Regions from separate parts of the Homo sapiens genome. Here all the other regions are linked to region 1. The links come from fine-mapping of genetic effects on gene expression. A gene starts in region 1. Each other region holds a variant in brackets. All regions are shown on one strand. Distances are between the middles of the regions.

Region 1 (7,118 bases):
TCAGGGGGTCATAAGTTGAGTGTCAGAAGAGAAAGATTAAGGAGGTATTATTAGTGCCGGTGGGCCAAACATGAAGTCTAGACACATTACTTAATCATTACATTCATTCATATAGTAAATATTCACCAGGTACATATATACTGAGTGCTGGGCTAGTTTCTGATGATGCAGAAATGAATGGCTTTATTGTCTTCGTCCTCAAGGCCCTCATGGTCTAGTGTAGAAGACAGACTGTAAATATTTACCATTCAGTACGATGTGTGCTGTTGCAGAGCGTGGCTTGGGCGCTATGGGGAACCAGAGGGCATGGAGCCTGGTTTGGAGGGGCAGGGAAGACTTTCTGAAATATGGGAGACAAGTCGAAGCCTATCTGACCAAGGCACCATGCAGGAGGAGGCGGGACATTCATGGCACAAGGCCAGCATGGCAGCAGTGTGAGGTGTGATGGGTGTGACCCATTCAAGGAACTGCCAGGTGCTCCATCTGAACCAACATGTCTGAGCTGGGGGCCTGGCATGAGGGTCATGCAGTCCTGTGGGTGCCAAAACAAGGTGGTTAATTTTATCCTAAAAACAATTGGCATCTACTGAGGAGTTTTATTTGGGAAGAGGTAAAATTAAATTAGAATGGGCAATGTATCTCTGGAAGCAGAGTGAAGGGGGAGCTGGAGGGGCAAGCCCAGAGGCAGGGCCAACACTGAGCTGCATGGTCCCTGCGATGGACAATCTGAGCCTGAGGTAAACGGGCTGATGTGGGACTGACGGATGCAAGGTGACAGGCTGAGGCTAGGGACCGTCATCACTCCCAGTCACACTGCAAGCTGCAGCAGGGTAGAGCCACATCTGATTTGTCCCCAGTGCCTGACCAGAGTTGGGGCTCAGTGTTTGTTGAGTGAATTCTTACTGCATGGCCAGGGTTTCTGGTCCTGGCAGCTGGGTGGATGGAGGGGTCATATTGAGAATCCTGGAGTGCAGTAGTAGCCAGGTGTGAAGAGTCAAGCAGGTCTGCAGCCTGAGGATCAGCATGGCAGCAGGAGGGTCCTCTGGGAGCTGGTCATGAATTTGATATGGACCATGGGATGGTGCCCACTTTTGTTTGTATCCTGGGGTACAGATCACAGCTCCATGAAGGTTTGAGCTAGGCAGGTGAGCCACGCTGGGAGCAAAGATGGTGGTGGCTAGGTACTTGCTTATCCCTATACCAATCAGCAGGATGTGGGTGGGGCCAGATAAGAGAATAAAAGCAGGCTGCCCGAGCCAGCATTGGCAACCCGCTCGGGTCCCCTTCCACACTGTGGAAGCTTTGTTCTTTTGCTCTTTGCAATAAATCTTGCTACTGCTCACTCTTTGGGTCCACGCTGCTTTTATGAGCTGTAACACTCACCGCGAAGATCTGCAGCTTCACTCCTGAGCCCAGCAAGACCACGAGCCCACCGGGAGGAATGAACAACTCCAGACACGCTACCTTAAGAGCTGTACCACTCACCGCGAAGGTCTGCAGCTTCACTCCTGAGCCAGCGAGACCACGAACCCACCAGAAGGAAGAAACTCCGAACACATCTGAACATCAGAAGGGACAGACTCCAGACACGCCACCTTAAGAGCTGTAACACTCACCGCGAGGGTCCACGGCTTCATTCTTGAAGTCAGTGAGACCAAGAACCCACCAATTCCGGACACAGTGCTGAGAATCATGCCTTGAAATCTAGCAGCTCTGTTAAAAACTGAGCAAGGTGTACTTCGGGGTTGTGTTGAGAAGGTTGGTGTTCAGCTAAATCAGGAGGGAAGGCCAAGGAAAATCAGGCTTGGCACCTGTCAACAGGTGGGACCCAATAGCCAAGCAAATGGTCCTGCAAACTGTACTACCCAACGTTCACAGCAAGGATTCCAACTTCTCACCAGGGCATGGAAAATTTGCCTTCATGTCAACCACCACCTTAGCCCTTGACTACCCAACGGACTCTTCCCAAGTCAACAGCCACTTCCTCCCTGGGGCTTAACAGGCATTCCTTGAAGCCTGCCCCGGGCAGTTAGTCCTTCCCTTTTGTGTGAACTCTCGGCTGTTTTCGTTGTCTGCACACAGAGCAGTGGTCTAGGGAGCGAAGGGTTTTGGAATGGACCTTTTCCTTTCTTAGCTTGCTGTAGGGATTGTGCTTCAGCTAAGTAAAGTGGAAAAACAGAAGTACAAAAGCAACAGCCCCAGATCTAAGGGCACCGTAGCTCTGGAATCTGGATTTTATTCCAGATTCAACCCTCAGCAGGGAGTTGAAGTGGTCAGCCCTGTGCTTTACAAGGCTGATTGGGCAGCACCCATAGTAGAATTGTCAATATAAAGTAATTGAAAGGATCAGAATCCAGGGTTTTCGTTGTTTTTAAGTTTTTAAGTTTTAAAAACAAAGTTGTTTTTGTTCGTTTTTAAGTTTACTTCTCTTTAATCGGTCTCACTTTATTGACCAGGCTGGTTTCGAACTCCTGGGCTTAAGTGATTTCTCCTGTCTCAGCTTCTCAAAGTGCTGGGATTACAGGCGTGAGCCGCTGCACCCAGCCCAGAATCCAGTTTTAAAGAGTTTATTCAAGCCAAAAGCTGGGAATGGCCATCTGAGAAACACAGACTCTAGGAAAATGGGGCCAGGGCCCTGAAGTTAAAAGTTAAAGTCTTGCTTACATAGGCAGAAAGCAAAGACATTTAGTAACCTTGTAGAACATTTTCTTGTATAACTTTTCTTGTTTTAACTTTCTTGTTTAACATTTTCTATGCAAGGCTGGTTTATGAGTTACAACCTATAATTAATTATAGGTTGTTCCCCTGCCTCCACCTTGTTTTCTTTTCTCTACAGCTTGTTTTCATTTCCTTTCCAATTTAAGAATGTGTTTAACATTCTATCCCAGACAATGTGATGGTCATGAAGTCTCTGTCAGAGAGGAAAGAGGGAGTTAATCTATAATGAAGATCAACAGTGAAGAGGAAAGGGGTCTTCCCTGGAACGCTTCAGTCATATACGACATTTTACACAACAATGTAAGTAAGGAAAAAGGCTAATCTATAATCAGAGAAACAAAGGTTGCAGCTGCCTGTTTACATGACTCAGGTCCCATGATCAAATTCCCTTAAGGCTCGAAATATTTTAAAGTTCCAACAGCTTAGATTTTGAATTGCTTATTTTCACAGAATGGACCTGTGTAAGGAGGTATGTGTGGGAGAAGATTCCAGAAGGTCTTGAGACACTCCAGATGAAGGTTGGTGTGGGGCTGTGCTGCTGGAGCACCAGAGAGTGAAAAGAGGCAAGCGATTTATAGTCTCATCAAATATCGACAAGTTTGGGTTTTCCTTTAGAGTTGGGCAGGGCCTGGCTGGACTTCTTTCTCCACCAGTCTCCGGGAGGCTCAAACAAGTTCTGATTTTCAGGTTCTGAAAAAGCTCTCAGGGAAAAAGCAGCTTCCATTCTGTTTTTTTTCCCTTTCTGCATTCTACTTCCCTTTTATTTTTGGCCTGGTAATTTCTGTCTTATCAGCTTTTAGATGTCCTTGAGATTTTTCTTTTCTTTCATTTTTTTTTTTTTGAGACAGGGTGTAAACCAAAAACTCTTTTATTCTTTTTTTTTTTCTTTTGAGACAGGATGTAAACCAAAAATAAAATTCTAAGCCCCGCCCTCCCTGCAACCATCTGAATGGACTTCCTCCTGGGCCAGGGTACTTTTAACCTGAAAGACTGGTTCAGGCCATGATGGAAAGTAGAGGTCAGACAGGACTCATTATACCTCTCTGATGAGAAGCATTTACAATCTATTTTCTCTGAAGCCTGCTACCCGGAGGCTTCATCTGCATGGTAAAACTTTGGTCTCCACAACCTCCTATCACAGCACAGACATTTTCTTTCTATTGAGCCCAGATCTTTAGATAAACTTAACCAATTGTCAACCAGTCAATTTTAAATCTACCTGTAACCTGGGAGCCCCCAACCTCCACCCAACAATTCAAGTTGTCCCACCTTTCTGGACAGAACCAATGTATTTCTTAAATGTATTTGATTGACATCTCATGTCTCCCTAAAATGTATAAAACCAAGCTGCACCCCGACCACCTTGGGCATAGTTCTCAGGATCTCCTGAGGGCTGTGTTACAGGCCATGGTCACTCATATTTGGCTCAGAATAAATCTCTTCAAATATTTTACAGAGCTTGACTGTTTTTATTTGTTAATGATCTCACTCTATCGTCCAGGCTGGAGTGCAGTGGTGCAATCATGGATTACTGCAGCCTCTACCTCCCTGGGCTCACATGATCCTCCCTTCTCAGCCTCCCAAGTAGCTGAGACTACACACATGCGCCACCATGCCTGGTTAATTTTAAAACTTTTTGTATAGATGGAGGTCTTACTGTGTTGCCCAGGCTGGTCTCAAACTTCTGGCCTCAAGTGATCCTACCACCACAGCCTCCCAAATTGGTGGGATTACAGGGATACGATTTTTATTTTATTTTTATAGAGATGGGGGTCACAGTATGATGCCCTGGCTGGTATTGAACTCCTGTGTTCAAGCAATACCCCTGCCTTAGCCTCTCAAAGTTCTGGGATTACAGGTGGGAGCCACCATGCCCAGCCTGGGAGAAGACTTTTAAAACATATTTTGTTTAGGCCAGTCATGGTGTTGAGGTCAGGAGTTCAAGACCAGGCTGGCCAACATGGCGAAACTGTGTCTCTACTAAAAAATATAAAAAACTTAGCCAGGCGTGGTGGCAGGTACCTGTAGTCCCAGCTACTTGGGAGGATGAGGAAGGAGAATTGCTTGAACCCAGGAGGTGGAGGTTGCAGTGAGTCAAGATCATGCCACTGCACTTCAGCCTGGGTGACAGAGTGAGACTCTGTCTCAAAAAAACAAAAGCAAATCATGTTTTGTTGAGTTTGTTTAGCTGTGTATTCACAAGTTGATTGGCATCTCTCAGCCCATCCCAACCCCACCCCGGAATGCTCTTCCCAGGCTTCCTAACAGGTATTCTCCTTTACCTGGATTGCATTTGTAGAAAACACTCTGCTTCAGTGGGAGGCAAGGAACAGAATATTTCTCTGTCTAGGGCATACTCTTCCATGTTATCTGATTCCAATTCTATGGGACCTATTTTACCATTCTGAAAGCTACAGATAACCGATAGAAATGAAAAATAATTCTTGTCTATGGATATGCAAATGCTTATATTTTGAAGAGAGACAACCCTTCCTCACTTCCCCCCAAATCCCCTAGTTTGCTTCCATTTTACACATTCATTTCAATATTTCTCTTCTCTTCCTTCTTTTCTTTTTTTTTAGGTTATCTCCCTCTGTGCCAGGCCAGAGTGCAGTGGTGCAATCACGGCTCACTGTAGTCTCAACCTCCTGGGCTCAAGAGATCCTCCCACTTCAGCCTCCCAAGCAGCTAAGACTACAGGCACGTGTCATCATATCTGGCAAATTAAAAAAAAAATTATAGAGATGGGCTCTCCCTGTGTTTCCCTGGTTGGTCTCAAACTCCTGGGCTCAAGTGATCCTCCCATCTTGGCCTCCCAACTTACTGGGATTACAGGCATTTGCCACTGTGCCCAGCCCATTTCAATATTTCTGATCAATAAATGTGCCTGTCCTTCAGATTCTCCTTTGAATTGGCTGTCACACCTCTTCAGTTTCTTCACTGAGGAGTTAAACATAATCTTGAGCAGCACGTGATATTGTTTAGCTCTGTGTCCCCACCAAATCTCATCTTGAATCGTAATCCCCCTGTGTGTCAAGGGATGGACCTGGTAGGGGATGATTGGATCATGGGGGGTGGTTTTCCCCATGGTGTTCCCATATAGTGAATGAGTTCTCACGAGATCTGATGGTTTAAAAGTGTTTGGCAGTTCCCCCTTCTCTCTCTCTCTCTCTCTCTCTCTCTCTCTCTCTCTCTCTCTGGCCACTTTGTGAAAAAGGTGCTCGCTTTTCCTTCGCTTTCTGCCATGATTGTAAGTTTCCTGAGGTCTCCCCAGCGATGTGGAACTGTGAGTTAATTAAACCTCTTTCCTTTATAAATTACCCAGTTTCAGGTAGTTCTTTATAGCAGTGTGCAAATGGACTGTTACAGCACATATTCATTTTTATATCTATATTGAGTTATCATTTAACCTGTTTTTGAAAATTATCTTTTAACATGCATTTTTCTCTTTCTTATTATCTTCTTTTGCTAAAACCTGTTCTCCAGTAGCTTCCTAAGAAAGGGTGCACAGGAGACCCATTTTTTGAGCCCCTCCTTATCTGACAATGTTTTTGTTTGACCCTAACCTTTGATTAATAATGCGACTGGATGTTGAACTTGTGAAAGGAAAATAAAAACTCAGGACCCCAATTCAGTATGCCAAAAGGAAAAAAAAAAAAGAAGCTGAAAGCTGAGTCATGCAAGAAACTGCCTTTTCTTTTGCTCCTAAGTAGATGGCTACAGATAAAAGATTAAATATCTCCACAGGTAGCTACTCCATGTTCACCTTATCTTATGTAAAGTGCTGATTTACTGAGCAGGAGACAGATATGTAACTGACTATTCCCTAGCTGCTCTTCTCCTCTTGCAATGTGTGGATTACCATACCCTTCCTCTATCCCCTCCAGAGATGAATTTTTCCATGTCTGTTTCCCCCATTTAAATATTGAAGCCCTCACTATCATCTTTGGAGAAAGGGACAGATCATAGACTTGTTTCTGTGATTCTGTGTCCTTTTCTTCCAGGCATGTCCTTAACCTTGGCAAAATAAACTTCTAAATGGATTGAGACCTGTCTCAGATATTTTTTGGTTCACAAACTCTAGGGTGGGAAATATTTCCCCTCAGAACTTTGAAGGCATTGCCCCCTCATCTTCTAGCACTCAACATGGCCATTGAGATTTGATGGCATTTTAAATTCCAACATGTTTATTAATGAGACCAGTTTTTTCTCACTAGAAGTTACACATAAAATACTTAAAATAGTTCCTGGAATTTAATGAACTGAATTAATGTTAGCTATTACTATCATTGAACTATTTTTTTTCTCTGACATTCTTTAATATTTTAATTTTTTTTTCTAAAAGACAGGGTCTCACTCTTTTGCCCTGGCTGGAGTGCAGTGGTGCAATCCTAGCTCAC
Region 2 (7,118 bases), 12 kb after region 1:
GCACAGCCCAATTCTACTACGTATACTCCCTCCTTGTTCTTTTTGTTTGGCATTATATCCTAAGCATTTCCCTGCATCATCCAAGCTCTGTGGGATGTCATTTTTAACACCCACACAGCGTCCTCTGGTGTGGTTGTATGACAAGTCACTTAACTATTCCACACCCAAAGCCTCCCCTTTTCCAAACTCTTCCCTGGGACCTCCTGAAGGTAACAGCAAGATCTGAGCAGCGCTGGATGGATCCTGCTCTCAGTCCCCTGTCTGGGAACAACGCTGAGCCTTAACAGGGATGTCAGCTTCCTAGGGCTGCTGTAACAAATCCCACAAACTGAGTGCCTTCAAACATTGTCTGGTAGTTCTGGAGGTCAAAGGTGCAGAACGAGTTTCACTGGGCTGAAACCAAGGTAGGGCTGTGCTCTCTCCTGAGGCTTTAGGGGAGAATCTGCTTCCTGAACTTTTCTAGCTTGGAGAGCTGCATTCCTTGGCCCTTCGTCCCCCTTGCTTCTCTTCCAAGCCAGTAGTGTAGCATCCTCAGATCTCCCTCTGCTTTCGTCTTCACGTTGCCTTTCCTTTTCTGCAGTCAGATGTCCCTCTGTCCCTCTTATAAGGACATTTGTGATGACATTTAGGGCCTATGTGGGCGATCCAGGATCATCTGTAGATCTAGAACTTAAACTTTTTTTTTTTTTTTTTTTTTTTTAGATGTGGTCTCACTCTGTCACCCAGGCTGGAGTGCAGTAGCACCATTTCGGTTCACTGCAACTTCTGCCTCCTGGGTTCAAGCGATTCTCCTGTCTCAGCCTCCCAAGTGGCTGGGATTACAGGTGTGCACCACCATCTCCAGCTAACTTTTTTGTATTTTTAGTAGAGACAGGGTTTTGCCATGTAGGCCAGGCTGGTCTCGAACTGTTGACCTCAGGTGATCTGCCTTGGCCTCCCAAAGCGTTGGGATTACAGGCGTAAGCCACCGCGTCCGGCCACATTATTCTTATTTGCAAAACAAATACTTATCTGGCATCAAACAGATACTTTGCATCCGGCAAAAACAGGTGGAGGTGACTGAAGGCGAATGTGGGAGGTCATGGTGGGTTAATGATCGCCAGCGCTGTCCGGTGAAATCAACCACCTGTGACAAAGGTGGTTTTTCACTTTTACTGAACAAGCATGCTATTCTACAGTAAACTCCTTAACAAATGTAGCTTTTCAAGGTCCTTAGGACTATTACCTTTCAATATTATTGGGAAGTTCTTTGCTCTTCTTAGCAGACTGCGAAACTCAACTTTGTGATGACAAGATACAGAATAAATGCATATTAACTGAAATTCTAGGCTCACACCTATGTGAGCTTTTCTCTCTCTAACAAGATGTCAGGGCCGGTTCAGGGAGTTCATCTCCAGCCACCTGTGCTAATCATCGCCCATCCTTTCCAAGTATCTAATGACACTCCCAACCAAGGTCTCTATAATTTCCAGCCAAAAATGAGTTACAACATATGGAACATCTAATTTTCTGTTTCCATTCTAGTTATTTTATTCTTATGAGCTTGTGGGCTCCATCTACCAACCTCTGGGCAAATGCTCATCTGACTTCCATAGACACACAGCAAGCAGACAACCACACAAAGAGGAAGAGGGAGAATATTTACCAGCCATGGAACATCTGCTCTGTGCTTATATCTCATATGCATTATCTCTAATTATCAAAAGAAGGTATTATTATTATTATTGTTCCGCATTCACAGATGACAAACTGAAGATCAGATTGGTTAAATACTTGTCCAACATTAACTTAGCATTTGGGCATCATAGTTGGAATTAAAACTTGGGTCTGCTCATCTCCAAAAACACCCTAAGCCTTACCACACTCATGGGACACAGCTGCAGCTGCAGGTTCTGAAAGGAAAACTAAAACTTCAGAACCCAGTTCACTATGCCAAAAAGGCAAAAAAAAAAAAAAAAAAAAAAAGCCAAAAGCTGAGTCATGCAAGAAGCTGACTTTCCTTTTGCTCCTAAGTAGATAGCTACAGATAAAAGGTTAAATAGCTCCACAGGTAGCTACTGTATGTTCACCTTATCTTACGTAAACTGCTGATTTATTGAGCATGAGACAAATACGTAATTGACTATCCCCTACCTACTCCGTTTCCTTTGCAACATGTGGATTCAGTCATGTGACCATACACTGCCTTTCTCCTCTCCAGCCTACTTTTCCACTTTAAATATCAAAGCCCTCAAAATCATCTTTGGAGAAAGGCACAGACTAGCGACTGTTTCTGTGATTTCGTGTCTTTTTACTTCCAGACATGTCCTTAACCTTGGCACAACAAATCTCTAAATCGATTGAGACCTGTCTCAGATACTTCTTGGTTTACAAGATGGAGGCTGAAATTAAAGAGAAAGATCCTCACTCAACTCACAGAGGAGCAGAATGGGAAGAGGACTTAGTGAGAATTCCCTGAACACAGGAGAAAACCGAAGCCCAGAGAGTGGATGGCCAAGTCCAAGGTCACACAGCCAAGTGCATCCGAGCAGCGCAGGATCCAGGTTTCCTGCCCCAGTGCTCTTTCTGCAGCCCATGCCACCTGTTTTCATGCTATCTCAGTTCACCTTCCAGCTACACACCTGCAATCAGAAACAGAAAGTCTGAGAGTGTGTGTGGAGCCAAAGAGGGGACAGCAGTGGTGAGGCCAGTTTCATGTCTTGTGATTTATTTTCTCCCTTTCTTTTTGGACTTTAATCTTAAGTGGACAGCAATTTGGAACAGTGTCAGCACCTTGTTGGATTGTGCTGTTTGGGAGAGGTGACACAGAGTATTTTAAAAGAGCAGGTTAAGAACTTTTCACAAGGAATCAATTGAGAGAAAATAAAATAGAAACAGACTGTCCCACATTTGGGCTGAGCACCAAACACATTTTTTTTTTTTTTTTTGAGACTGAGTCTTGCTCTGTCACTCAGGCTGGAATGCAGTGGCGCGATCTCGGCTCACTGCAGCCTTCACCTCCCGGGTTCAAGTGATTCTTCTGCCTCAGCCTCCCAAGTAGCTGGGATTACAGGTGCCCACCACCATGCCAGGCTAATTTTTGTATTTTTAGTAGAGACGAGGTTTCACCATGTTGGCCAGGCTGGTCTTGAACTCCTGACCAAGTGATCCACCTGCTTCGGCCTCCCAAAGTGCTGGGATTACAGGCACGAGCCACCGCACCTGGCCTCAAACAAGCTTTTTAATTGCATTCAGAAGTGCACCAACTAGGCACAGACCTCTGGCATGGAGACAGAATGGGAGGTTCTTGGTGTCTGGCCTGGTCTTGCAGAAATCAGGGAGTTGTGGGGACCAGGCAGCCACTGTGCATCAGATAGGAGTTTCAGCAGCAGGCAACAGAAAGCCTGCCAATGTAGCTGAAATAAGAAGGGCTTATTTTTATCCCTGAACAGAAGCTTCCAGCACTGGTTCATCAGATCAGGGCACTGAGCTGGCATCCCCATTTATACAGTTTTCCTTTCCTTCACCTTTGTAAGATGCCTGGCACAGCTCTGAGCATCAAATATCTGTGCCATGTGGGAGCACACGAGGGGACAAGTGGGGAATAGGGTCTCCTCTGTCCTCTGTCCCCAGGCTGGCTTCTCTCGTGGTAGAAGGACCCCCACAGCACCAGGCCTCATAACTACCCTGCTGGTAAACTGCAGGTGCTGTCACGGCTTCCTGCCTTCGTATATGAAATGTTCCTTGGCAGCTGGACTGCTGTTTGTTTACCGCACGCACAGCTCT[G/T]CTGCCTCTTGGTTACACCAGTGAGCTATTGCTCCATGACAAGCCACACCGAAATGTAGCAAGCACTTATTGTTGCCCACATGTGTCAAGTCAGTTGAGTGTTTCTGCCAACCGGGGCCTGGCTTGGCCCACCTTGGCTGAGCTTGCTCTGGTGCTAGGGTCAGCTAGACAGGTCGGCAGGAGACCAGCTGCTCTAGAAGAGCCTGGACAGGATGAATTGGTTCTCCTTCCACGTGCATCTTGCATCCCTCCAGCCAAGGATTTGAACCCAGGTCTCGTCTGACTCCAAATGCACCAAGAGGATGGAGCCCAGAGTGACACAGAGGAAGAGGCCCCTGGATGGATGCATGGGGAAGGTGAGGCCTGGAGGTGATATGCTTGAGATTACCAGGCTCTTCTGAACCTGGGGGACCTTCTCCTATGATAGCCCTGCTCCTCCAGACCCAGCAGGTGATTTCCCCAAAAGCCGCTTACAGTGAACGCACCTGATAGCAATAACTTAAGCATCCCCTGAGAATGACCCTTATGGCAGGTGCAGGTGAATGTGGTTTGGAGTTCTGAGCTAAGGAATCTGGGAGTGGCCAACCTGGAGATTCATTCCTATTCCTTATCTATGAGGAACATCTGAGCTCCTGTCCCGTCCTGTGCAACACGGACAGTACAGGGGATCAAGGCCCTTTGTTTTGGGTTAGGTAAATGTTGCCAGGTGGACACTGTTGGGGGAGGGTGCTAAGTGAAGATGCTATATATGCTGCAAGCTTTTTGTAAGTTGTGTGGCTCTCCTGCCCAGCCCACCACTGCTAGATGCTCTCCCCTGCATGTAAGCCCCAGTAAAACTCCATGTCTCCTTCAGCAGCCCTGGGTCCTTTCTTCAGCCTCTCAAACCTGCTGCCATCCCCATTGGAGTAGATAGGGGTTCAGCATAACAGCAGCCACCAGCTGGGGAAAGGCGTGGCATTTGGAGCTCCCTACATGGTCTTGACTCTAATATGGAGGGAAAGAAAACAGATTCTGCCCTGCTCAGTAAAGCCCCCTACTGGCCTCCCACCCTGGACTGTGGACAAAGCTTTTTTTTTTTTTTGAGACGGAGTCTCACTGTGTCCCCCAGGCTGGAGTGCAGTGGCGTGATCTCAGCTCACTGCAAGCTCCGCCTCCCCGGTTCACGCCATTCTCCTGCCTCAGGCTCCCGAGTAGCTGGGGCTACAGGCGCCTGCCACTACACCCGGCTAATTTTTTTTTTTTTTTTCATTTTTAGTGGAGACGGGGTTTCATCGTGTTAGCCAGGATGGTCTCGATCTCCTACCTCGTGATCTGCCCACCTCGGCCTCCCAAAGTGCTGGGATTACAGGCGTGAGCCACTGCGCCCGGCCAACAAAGCATATTTTTTTCCTCTGAGGTCTTTACCCTATAACTGCAAGTGGTTTCATGACACTGCACATGGGTTCTTATCTGGGGTTGGTAGATTCAACTCAATTCCACAGGTTTACTGGGTGTTGCCTCCCATGCTTGGAGCCAGGAGGATGCAGGGAAATGGGGCTGCCACCATACCCGCTCTTCTTATGATCCCATCACATCATTGCACCCTTTGGGGCCTGGCACCATGCTCTGGCACTTTGCCTCCATCATCTCCTTTAACCTCTGAGCTCTGTCAGGAAGGCATTACTACTATCCCTGGAATACAGACAGGAAAACTGAGTTGGATTGAGGCTCAGAGAGGTTAAGTCACTTACCCAAGGTCACAAAGCTAGAGAGTGGCAGGCCAGCATCCAAGGCCAGCAACACGAGCTCCCTCTGATCCAAATGGTGACTCTATGTTTGATCAGTGCTCTGAGAACTCTCCAAAGATCTTTATCAACTGTCATCTCTTCATTGCCCAGGCCCAGTCAGGGAGCCACTTGGCTGCGGTCCCGCTGAGATTTAGGGGCAGGACCCCTGATGTGAGGTGGAATGCTTGGTCACGCTGTTCAAGCCTCCACCAGTCACTCCTGACTGGTTATGGACACTCAATGTGCCCCGTCCTGTGTGCAATGCAGTGTGGGAAGGGGATCAAGGACCTTGGCTAATCCCAGGCATTTCCCCAGAATGTCCCAGGTGTGGACCCCTTGGGAGGTGCTGGGAAGCAGGCTGGTGTCCCACAGGCCTTGGTTCCATCCCAGCTGTGCTGTGCTAAGCTGAAACTCTTTGGGCAGCTTGTTTCACCTCATGAGACTTCTTTTTCTGAACTGTTAAATGGGATGATTCGACCTCTGCTTGGCTTTTGGTGACGATTAAACGAGATATTAGCTGTAAAGCATTTCATCCCGGGTCTGGTATAGAAGAAGCACTTGATAAATGAAAGCTCTGTTGAGTATGATGATCCGTCACCCCAGGCATCAGTGGGATCTCACAGCAGGAACAATGCCTAACTCCTAACTGATGCCCAGTAAACATCGGGTGGATGCAATGTCCAACAAGACAGATATTCATGTTCAGTTTTACAGAAAAGGAGACAGAGGCCAGAAAAGGAAGAAAGTGCCCAGGTCAGCCGGCTAGTAAGAGGCAGAGTTGAAATTTGAACCGGGTTCTGGCTGGCTGCAGCTCCACTGCTCCACTACTGCACTGTCTGAGAGCCAAAAGGCACCTTGTAGTCAGGCAGGCAGGGAGCTGGCTTCTTGCTGTCCTGCTGGATCCTGCCCTAGTGTGGCCCTCCCTGGAACCAGGGGTGGGGCTGGAGGGCAGGGCACTGAGAGAGAGCTCCTGGGAACTGTACCATCTGCACAAAGGGCACCTGCTGGGCACTCTGCTGAAAGCTGTCTGCAAACACCACTTCCTGCCTGCCTCCCTGGGGGCTCTAAGCTCAGGAGGGGGTGAGGGCCCATGTCTGCACGTGGTGAGGCCCCTGCTGGGTATTGTACCACACCTTCATTGTGCTCAGGGTGGCCAGTGGAGGCCCTTCCCAGACTCGAGCTCTGGTCACAAGCCCAACCCCCTCCTTGCTCCTGTCTGGGCTCACCTGGAATCTCCTGCCTCACTCTGTGGCCAGAGGCACCTTTGGAAGCCCAGGTCACCCCTACTACTCATGCCCCTCATTTGGAAATTTTCATAATCTACCTCTTGTTAATGATTCCATCCCATCTATAATGCTTTTCTATTTTTCTGAATTTTTCCCCGATAGGCTATAACTGCTGCAAAGATAGAGAATTGCAATGATTAATATGCATTTATGTATTTCCAAAAAGTTACCAGAATATCAAACTCATGATTTTGTCTATAGTTTGGTTAGATTCAAGCTATTTTTATATCATAAAACAACTTAAAATTTTTTTATTTTTAATTTTTGTGGGTGCAGAGTGATGTATTTATGGGGTACCCGA
Region 3 (7,118 bases), 30 kb after region 1:
CACCAGCACCGTGACAGTTTACAAATGACATGGACACATCAGGAAGTTACCCTATATGTCTAAAAGGGGAGGAGCCCTCCATTCCAATTGTCCACCCCTTTCCTGGAAAACTCATGAATAATCCACCCCTTGTTTAGCATATAATCAAGAAATAACCATGAAAATAGCCAACCAGCAGCCCTCAGGGCTGCTTTGCCTATGGAGTAGCCATTCTATATTCCTTTACTTTCTTAATAAACTTGCTTTCACTTTAGCCTATGGACTTGCCCCAAATTCTTGCATGAGGTCCAAGAACCTTCTCTTGAGGTCTGGATTGGGACCCCTTTCTGGTAACACTACAGCCACGCTATGGAAAATCTAAATAAAAATAAAGATTGTATTTTCCAAACCATCGGGGAGCTATGGAAGCAACAAGGGCCAGAGGAAGTAAAATTCTGGAGAAGGGAGGACAGCTCAGAGGTGAGCATCTGCAGATGCCTTTCCCTTCCTGTCATTTGATAATCCTGGGCAAAGACTGAAATTGGTGCTGAGTCCAGTCGGGGGATGCTGTGGAGTCATCAAATTAGAGGCTTGGGGGGGCCTCAAACATCCAGCCAGCTTCCTCCTTCAGAGGTGCTGAACTGTGAAGCTGTGTGATGTGAGAGGCTGACAGGCTAAGCTGAAGACCTCAGGAAAGTAGAGTGGAATTTCCCGTGGTCTTTTTTTTTTTTTTTGAGGCAGTGTCTCTTTCTGTCACCCAGGCAGGAATGCAGTGGCAAAATCACAGCTCACTGCAGCCTGGACCTCTCAGGCTCAAGTGATCCTCCCACCTCAGCCCCGGAGTAGCTGGGACCACAGGCACGTGCCACCACTCCCGGGTACTTTTTGTATTTTTTGTAGAGTGGGGTCTCACCGTGTTGCCCAGGCTCCCTGTGGTCTCCTGAGAAGACAAAGGCTCACCAGGGGGTGGAGTTCCTGAGAACAGCTTGGCAGGAGCTGAAAACGCTGGAGAGCAGGTGAACTGACCCCTGCTGTCAGGCATCTGCAGCTGCTTTTTCCTGAGAACATTAGCTGTGAGTTTTGTGCAGCTGGACAAATGTGGAGACTTGAGGGAATCTCAAATGCGTGGCCAGTACCCTCTCTCCACAGGCTTTTTACAATTTGAAGCAGTTCAGGGCAGGATGCTGAAGAGCAAAGCCAAAACCCCCAAAAGGAAAATAATTTCCTGCAGTCTCTTAGTGTCATGAACAAATGTGAACCTGAAAGAGCCAATCTTTCAAGAAAGATCCCTAGGCCGGGCGCGGTGGCTCACGCCTGTAATCCCAGCACTTTGGGAGGCCGAGGCGGGCGGATCACGAGGTCAGGAGATCAAGACCATCCTGGCTAACACGGTGAAACCCCGTCTCTACTAAAAATACAAAAAAATTAGCCGGGCGTGATGGTGGGCGCCTGTAGTCCCAGCTACTCGGGAGGCTGAGGCAGGAGAATGGCGTGAACCCGGGAGGCGGAACTTGCGGTGAGCCGAGATTGCGCCACTGCACTCCAGCCTGGGCGACAGAGCCAGACGCCATCTCAAAAGGAAAAAAAAAAAAAAAAAAGACAGAAAGATCCCCAGTGGCTAACGAGGCCTAAATGTGAAATAGTAAAATACAGCCAAGCAGCCATCTGCTAACTAGAAATCACATAGGTACTCCTGAGTTCCCAGAAATCCAACACCTCTGTTTGACTTGGTGACTTTCAGAGCACGCCTAAACCAACCAATCAGAGCCCACCTGCCTTGACCAATCAAGGCTCAGCTGTATCAACTAATTGGAACTACCTGAGTCTGAATCTCTCATTTGCATAAATGGACCTGATTGGGAACCTGGGTGGAAACTTTTGCTACAGAACCCCAACCCTCCCTTTGTGCTCTGGAACACATCTTGTTTTACACTGAAGGCTGCATCTCCCTGGTTTGCAAACTATTCACTGGAATATAAAGTCTCTTTCCTCCAGTTTCCTTTCCAGAGAATTTTGTTCACAGTGCTGAGACAAAGACCTACCAGACTCTTGATTGAGGGTCATACTCTAAGAGCAGGGCAAACTAGAGATAGATAGGCAATTTTTTTTTTTTTAATATAGGGTCTCACTCTGTCACCCAGGCTGGAGTGCAGTGGCTCAATCTTGACTCACTGCAGCCTTGACCTCCTGGGTTCAAGTGATCCTCCCACCTCAGCCTCAGCTGGAGCTACAGGCATGCACCACTGTACCCAGCTCTTTTTATATTTTTTTGTAGAGATGGGGGTCTCACTGTGTTGCCCAGGCTGGTCTCAAACTCCTGAGCTCAAGCGATCCACCCACCTTGGCTTCCCAAAGTGTGGGGATTACAAAGTGAGCCACTGTGCCTGGCTGGATAGACTGATTCTTATCCAAACTGCATCTTAACCTTGACTCAGTTTAGTCCCTATTGGGATTAAACTGTTTAATACTTCACTCTATCTGCCTAGCAGAGAATAGGGTTAACTCTACTTGGGGGGAAAACGCTAGAGTCTTTCCAGTGCTTTTATACAAAATATTTGGCATTCCTTTAAATATTACTCAAGAGAAAAGACCATTTAACTAAAAACCAAGAGAAAAAGTAGACAATAGAAGGAGGCCCACCAGTAAACCAGAGTTATTAGACAAGAACTTTAAAGTAACCATGATTATGTCCAAAGAAATAGAATGATGGACAAAATGATTAAGAGTGTAGAGATTATCAGATAAAGTTTTAATCTTTAAAAAAAGCATCAAATGGGCATCCTGGAACTAATAAATATAATATTTGCAGCAAAGAAATGAATTGTTTGAGAGCAGATTGGTTATAGCAGATGTCAGCATTAGTGAACTGGAAGATAAACTAATAGAAAACATCAACATTGAAGCTCAGAGAGGAAAAAAAAGGAAACAAAACAAGAACAGAGCATAGAGAGCACGGTACACTTGTTTAAAGGGTCTGACAATGTGTAATTGGAGTCACTGAAAGAGAGGGAAAGGGAGGAAAAGAAAGGATGAGACGGGAATAGTTGAAGATACAATGGCTAAGACATTTCCTCAAATAGTGGATAAACTATTAGAGTTAAGTCAATTTATCTAGGTCTTAGATATAGTGTCAATGCACACAAACCAGTTGCATTTTTTTATAACAGCAACAAACATAATACATAATTTGAAATGACATTTAAAATAGCATCAATCAAATACTTAAGAGTTAATTTAATGAAATCAGAGAGAACAGTTAAAGACAACCCAAAATATGGAAGGATACACTATGCAATTGCTTCGGATCGTAAG[T/G]CTTAATATGTTGGAGATGTTAATTCTCTTCAAATATACCTATAGATTCAACACAATCCCAATCAATCTTAGCAGGCTTTTGGAGGTGGGGAGGATTAACAAGCTGATTTTAAAATGCATATGGATATGTAAAGGGAAGAGAATAGCTATATTAGGGTTCTCCAGAGAAACAGAATCTTACAATAAGATATAAAGACCTATTTTAAAGCTATAGTAATTAGCAATGTGGTATCAACACAAGGAGAGACAAACAGACTAATGGAATAGAAAAGTGTCCAGAAACAGACTCATACATAAATGTTCCCAGATTTATGACAGAAGTGATAATACCGTACAGTAGACAAAGCATAGTCTTTTAAATAATTGGCATTAATTGGATATCAACATGGAAAAATTAATCTAAATAAAATCTTTAGAAGAAAATAGTGTACATAAGCAAAACTTTCCTAAACCCTCATTCTTCAGTTCCGTGGTTGGGTTGACTTTCTTTTACCACTTTGCAAGTTTGCTCTGCTCACTGTCTGAAATAAGCAGAGCTGGAACTTGGATGTTCTTGTTTTTGTTATTATCTGCACAATCCCCATCCAGTCTTTTCTCTAGTAGTCATGATCTACTTGATACTAAGCCACTCTTTGGTTTTATCATTAGTTCTAACATTAAGTGCATACTTATGTCACTCCTTGTCTCAAACACTCATTGCTCATCATTCAAAACCAGCTGCTGGGACTGGCGTGTTTGATGCTTACAATGGAGCATCAATACCACCCCTGCCCCCACCACCACCACATTCTTATTCTTTATCATATGAGCTTGGATAATCCTCATTATTCCTGATCTCCAGACACACCCTGAATTACCTCTCCTCCAGGTCTACTCATGCTGCTTACTCGGTGGGACAACTTTGCCAGTTCCATCTAAACCATGCCCTGTCTAGGCTGTCTGCCTTTGGCATCTTGTCTGCCCTGCCATTTTGGCCCAGTACCTAGGAGGAGCTGAACAGAAATGTGCAGAGGTATCAGTGACTCTTACCCAGCCTTCCAAGCCCTGCACAGCGCCTCCTTGTTTGTGGTCTGGAATCCTTCCGGCAAGTGGGTGTCCAGCCTCAACGTCCCCAGGGCTTGGGGCTTGTGAAGGGCTCCCTCTGCTGGAGGAGGAGAGCATTGGGCCCAGGCATGAGTGCACCATCAGTACCAGGCAATCCTGGGAGCAATTCTGGAGAGATCAAAGTGGTTCTCAAAGACATTGGTGACACCTACCCCGGAGAGTGAATCCTTCAGGTCACAGGTACCAGAGATGGACAACTTGGCCAGAAGACATAGCCTTATCTCACTTATCTCAGACATGACATGGACAAAGACCAGCTGAAGGACCAGGAACCAAACTGTTGTCACCTGCAGCTCCGTGGCTTTTTTCATACCAGGTCCAAGGGTTGAGGGATGGGAGACCTGGCCAAAGAGGGTGATCGGTGAAGCAATCTATTTTCCACCTTGAGGCTAACTGGTAGTTATTTCTTTCTGCCTATGGAGACCTCTGCTTACCTTCTGACCACCCACTCATGGCAAGGTGTTCTCAGTCTCCATCTTCAGACCCCACCACCATTTCTACAGTAGCCACTGTGGATCTCCCTACTCCAGGTTCTGCCTCTTCCATGTAATGAGCCAAACTTGGCCAAGGCAGTCAACAAGCAGCATGCATGTTAGAGCCAGGAACAGCTGGGTCCATATCCTTCCTCTGCTACCCACTTCATTCAGGTTGCTAAGCCACTCAAGCCTCTGATACTTCATCTATGAAATGGGGGTGACGGTCTCTAGTTTATGGAGTTGTTGGGAGGTGTTAGTGAGATACCCTATGAAAAATGCCTGACATGGCATAGGGGCTCCCCACATATTAGGCAACCTTTACCTCCAACCCCACTGACAGCCACACACCTGCCCATCAGGGAGTGAGGTTGAGAATATCAAAATATATATTTGCAACAGAAAATGATAGAGATAAATAGCAATTGCATTGGGGTTACAAGGGTAGGAATGATGGATTCTGCCTGGGAGAGGGAACTAGTCTGAGAACATAACTATTGACCAGGGTATTTCAAGTATTCACTATGTGTCAGGCTTTAACACTATACACACAGCCTCATCTGATCCTCAGAGGAGTCCCATAGGGTAGGTACCTACAGCAAACAGGCTTCAGGGGGGCCCAGGAGACCAGGGGTCCCCATGATCCCTGCCTCCTGGTATTCATAACCTTGAGTAAGGATAGGACCTACCCCTGACCAATGGAATATGGCAAAGGTGACACACGTACGTGATTCCATGTATGGATCACATTATATGAGACTGTGATGTCCCTTGTCTTCCTGGCCCACTCCATTCCCACCCCAAGTGTTGGTTCCTTGGAAAAACACTGGGGATGGAGGTGGAATTGCTGTGAAAACAAGACTCAGTCCTCCACAGAAGCTGCCCAGGGAGTTCTTCAAAAGTGGTTATCCTACCTGCCATTTACACTGGATCAGGACTGTCCAGAAATCATTTTCACATCTCCCCAGCAGAATGGCATCATCTCAATACTAATCTTCACTTGAACTAGAAGAATCATGCTTGTGGTTTTCAAAAGGAAAAGGTTCCTATTCATGGTGCATTTAGAAGCAGCCCAGGGTGCTTATAGAACGGACCTGCTTCTTGCTATGTTCTTGAGCTTCTGAGGCCTCTTGACAAAGTCGAGCAAGTAAGACGACCAGGCCAAGTGGGCACTCTGGGCCCCATGGCCAAGGATGGGCTGGCCAGGTGGCCACGTGGCCTCCGGTGGCCTTGTTTCTGTGGGCTTTATCTGATCCTGAGCTCAGATGCTGATAGTGCACTGGCTTATTTTCTAAGGAGAGGGAGCTTGATTTGTGCAGGATGCGCCTTCACCAGATACCTCCAGGGGCAAGAGTCCACTGAGGTTACAGCGCCCCCCGCCCCCCATGCCTCTAAGCTCTAAGCTCAGAGAAGGGTCCCTGACACAGAGTCCTGTTAAAGGAATGGCCACAGGGATAGGAGAGACCAGGGTCGTGCATGCCAGCTCAGGATCTGGGGCAGGATGGTTGGCAGGGGGTCGTGGGGAGCAAAGGAGGGGAATCACCTGACAGAAAATTGGGCAGGGGTGCTCAGGGAGGAGGCTGCGGAGGGACTGGGACCAGTGGAAGGGAGGTGGAATAGGTCTTAGGAGCCAAATTCCTTGCAGAGGCCTGGGGTGAAGCCTGGGCAGCTCTATCCCCGGGAGCCGCCCTTTTGCCTCCAGCAGCTGCCGGTCCAGCCACAGCCCCTCCAGGAGACCCAGGCCGGGTTCCTAACTCCGCTGCTCTTTGGCCTCGTCCCTGCCTAGCCCCTGCTGCAGGTTGCTTTTTTCCCCCCTCCTCCTCCTCCCTCCTCCCTCCTCCCTCCTCCCCCTTCCTCCTCCTCCCCCTCCTCCCCCGACTGGCCCCGCCCCCACTGCCGGCCCCGCCCCCACTGCCGGCCCGGGCCCCACCCACGCCGGAGCTGCTCCATTTAAGGAGATTGCGCAGCTGGAAAGCTACACGTGTGAGCCTAGAGGCGGGTCCCGGTTGCAGACTTGCCATGGCCTCCGAAGCTTCTGTGCGTCTAGGGGTGCCCCCTGGCCGTCTGTGGATCCAGAGGCCTGGCATCTACGAAGATGAGGAGGGGAGAACCTGGGTGACTGTGGTCGTGCGGTTCAATCCCTCGCGTAGGGAATGGGCCAGGGCCTCCCAGGGCAGCAGAGTGAGTCCTGGGCACGAGGGGAGGCTGTGGGGAGGGCTGCGCACTGACCCCTGCCCGTGTGGGACCGCG

The links. PIP is the estimated chance that this variant, and not a neighbour inherited with it, causes the effect.
Region 2: its variant is fine-mapped to the expression of TCL6 in whole blood (TOPMed, PIP above 0.99).
Region 3: its variant is fine-mapped to the expression of TCL6 in whole blood (TOPMed, PIP above 0.99).

What each region holds. Positions count from the first base shown.
Region 1 is chr14:95,649,209-95,656,326 of GRCh38, forward strand. TCL6 (T cell leukemia/lymphoma 6) reads left to right here and starts at 2,889. Exons shown (of 8, transcript NR_028288.2): 1 at 2,889-3,018; 2 at 3,169-3,281; 3 at 5,301-5,418.
Region 2 is chr14:95,660,956-95,668,073 of GRCh38, forward strand. LOC124903372 reads left to right here and starts at 3,858. Exons shown (of 2, transcript XM_047432042.1): 1 at 3,858-4,121. The coding sequence starts at 4,068. TCL6 (T cell leukemia/lymphoma 6) reads left to right here. Exons shown (of 8, transcript NR_028288.2): 4 at 1,525-1,709. RefSeq lists enhancers at 2,316-2,395, 4,465-5,112, 5,759-6,405. The variant G/T (reference allele first, on the strand shown) is at 3,766.
Region 3 is chr14:95,679,581-95,686,698 of GRCh38, forward strand. It overlaps TCL1B (TCL1 family AKT coactivator B), which reads left to right and starts at 6,846. Exons shown (of 4, transcript NM_004918.4): 1 at 6,846-7,049. The coding sequence starts at 6,888. The variant T/G (reference allele first, on the strand shown) is at 3,292.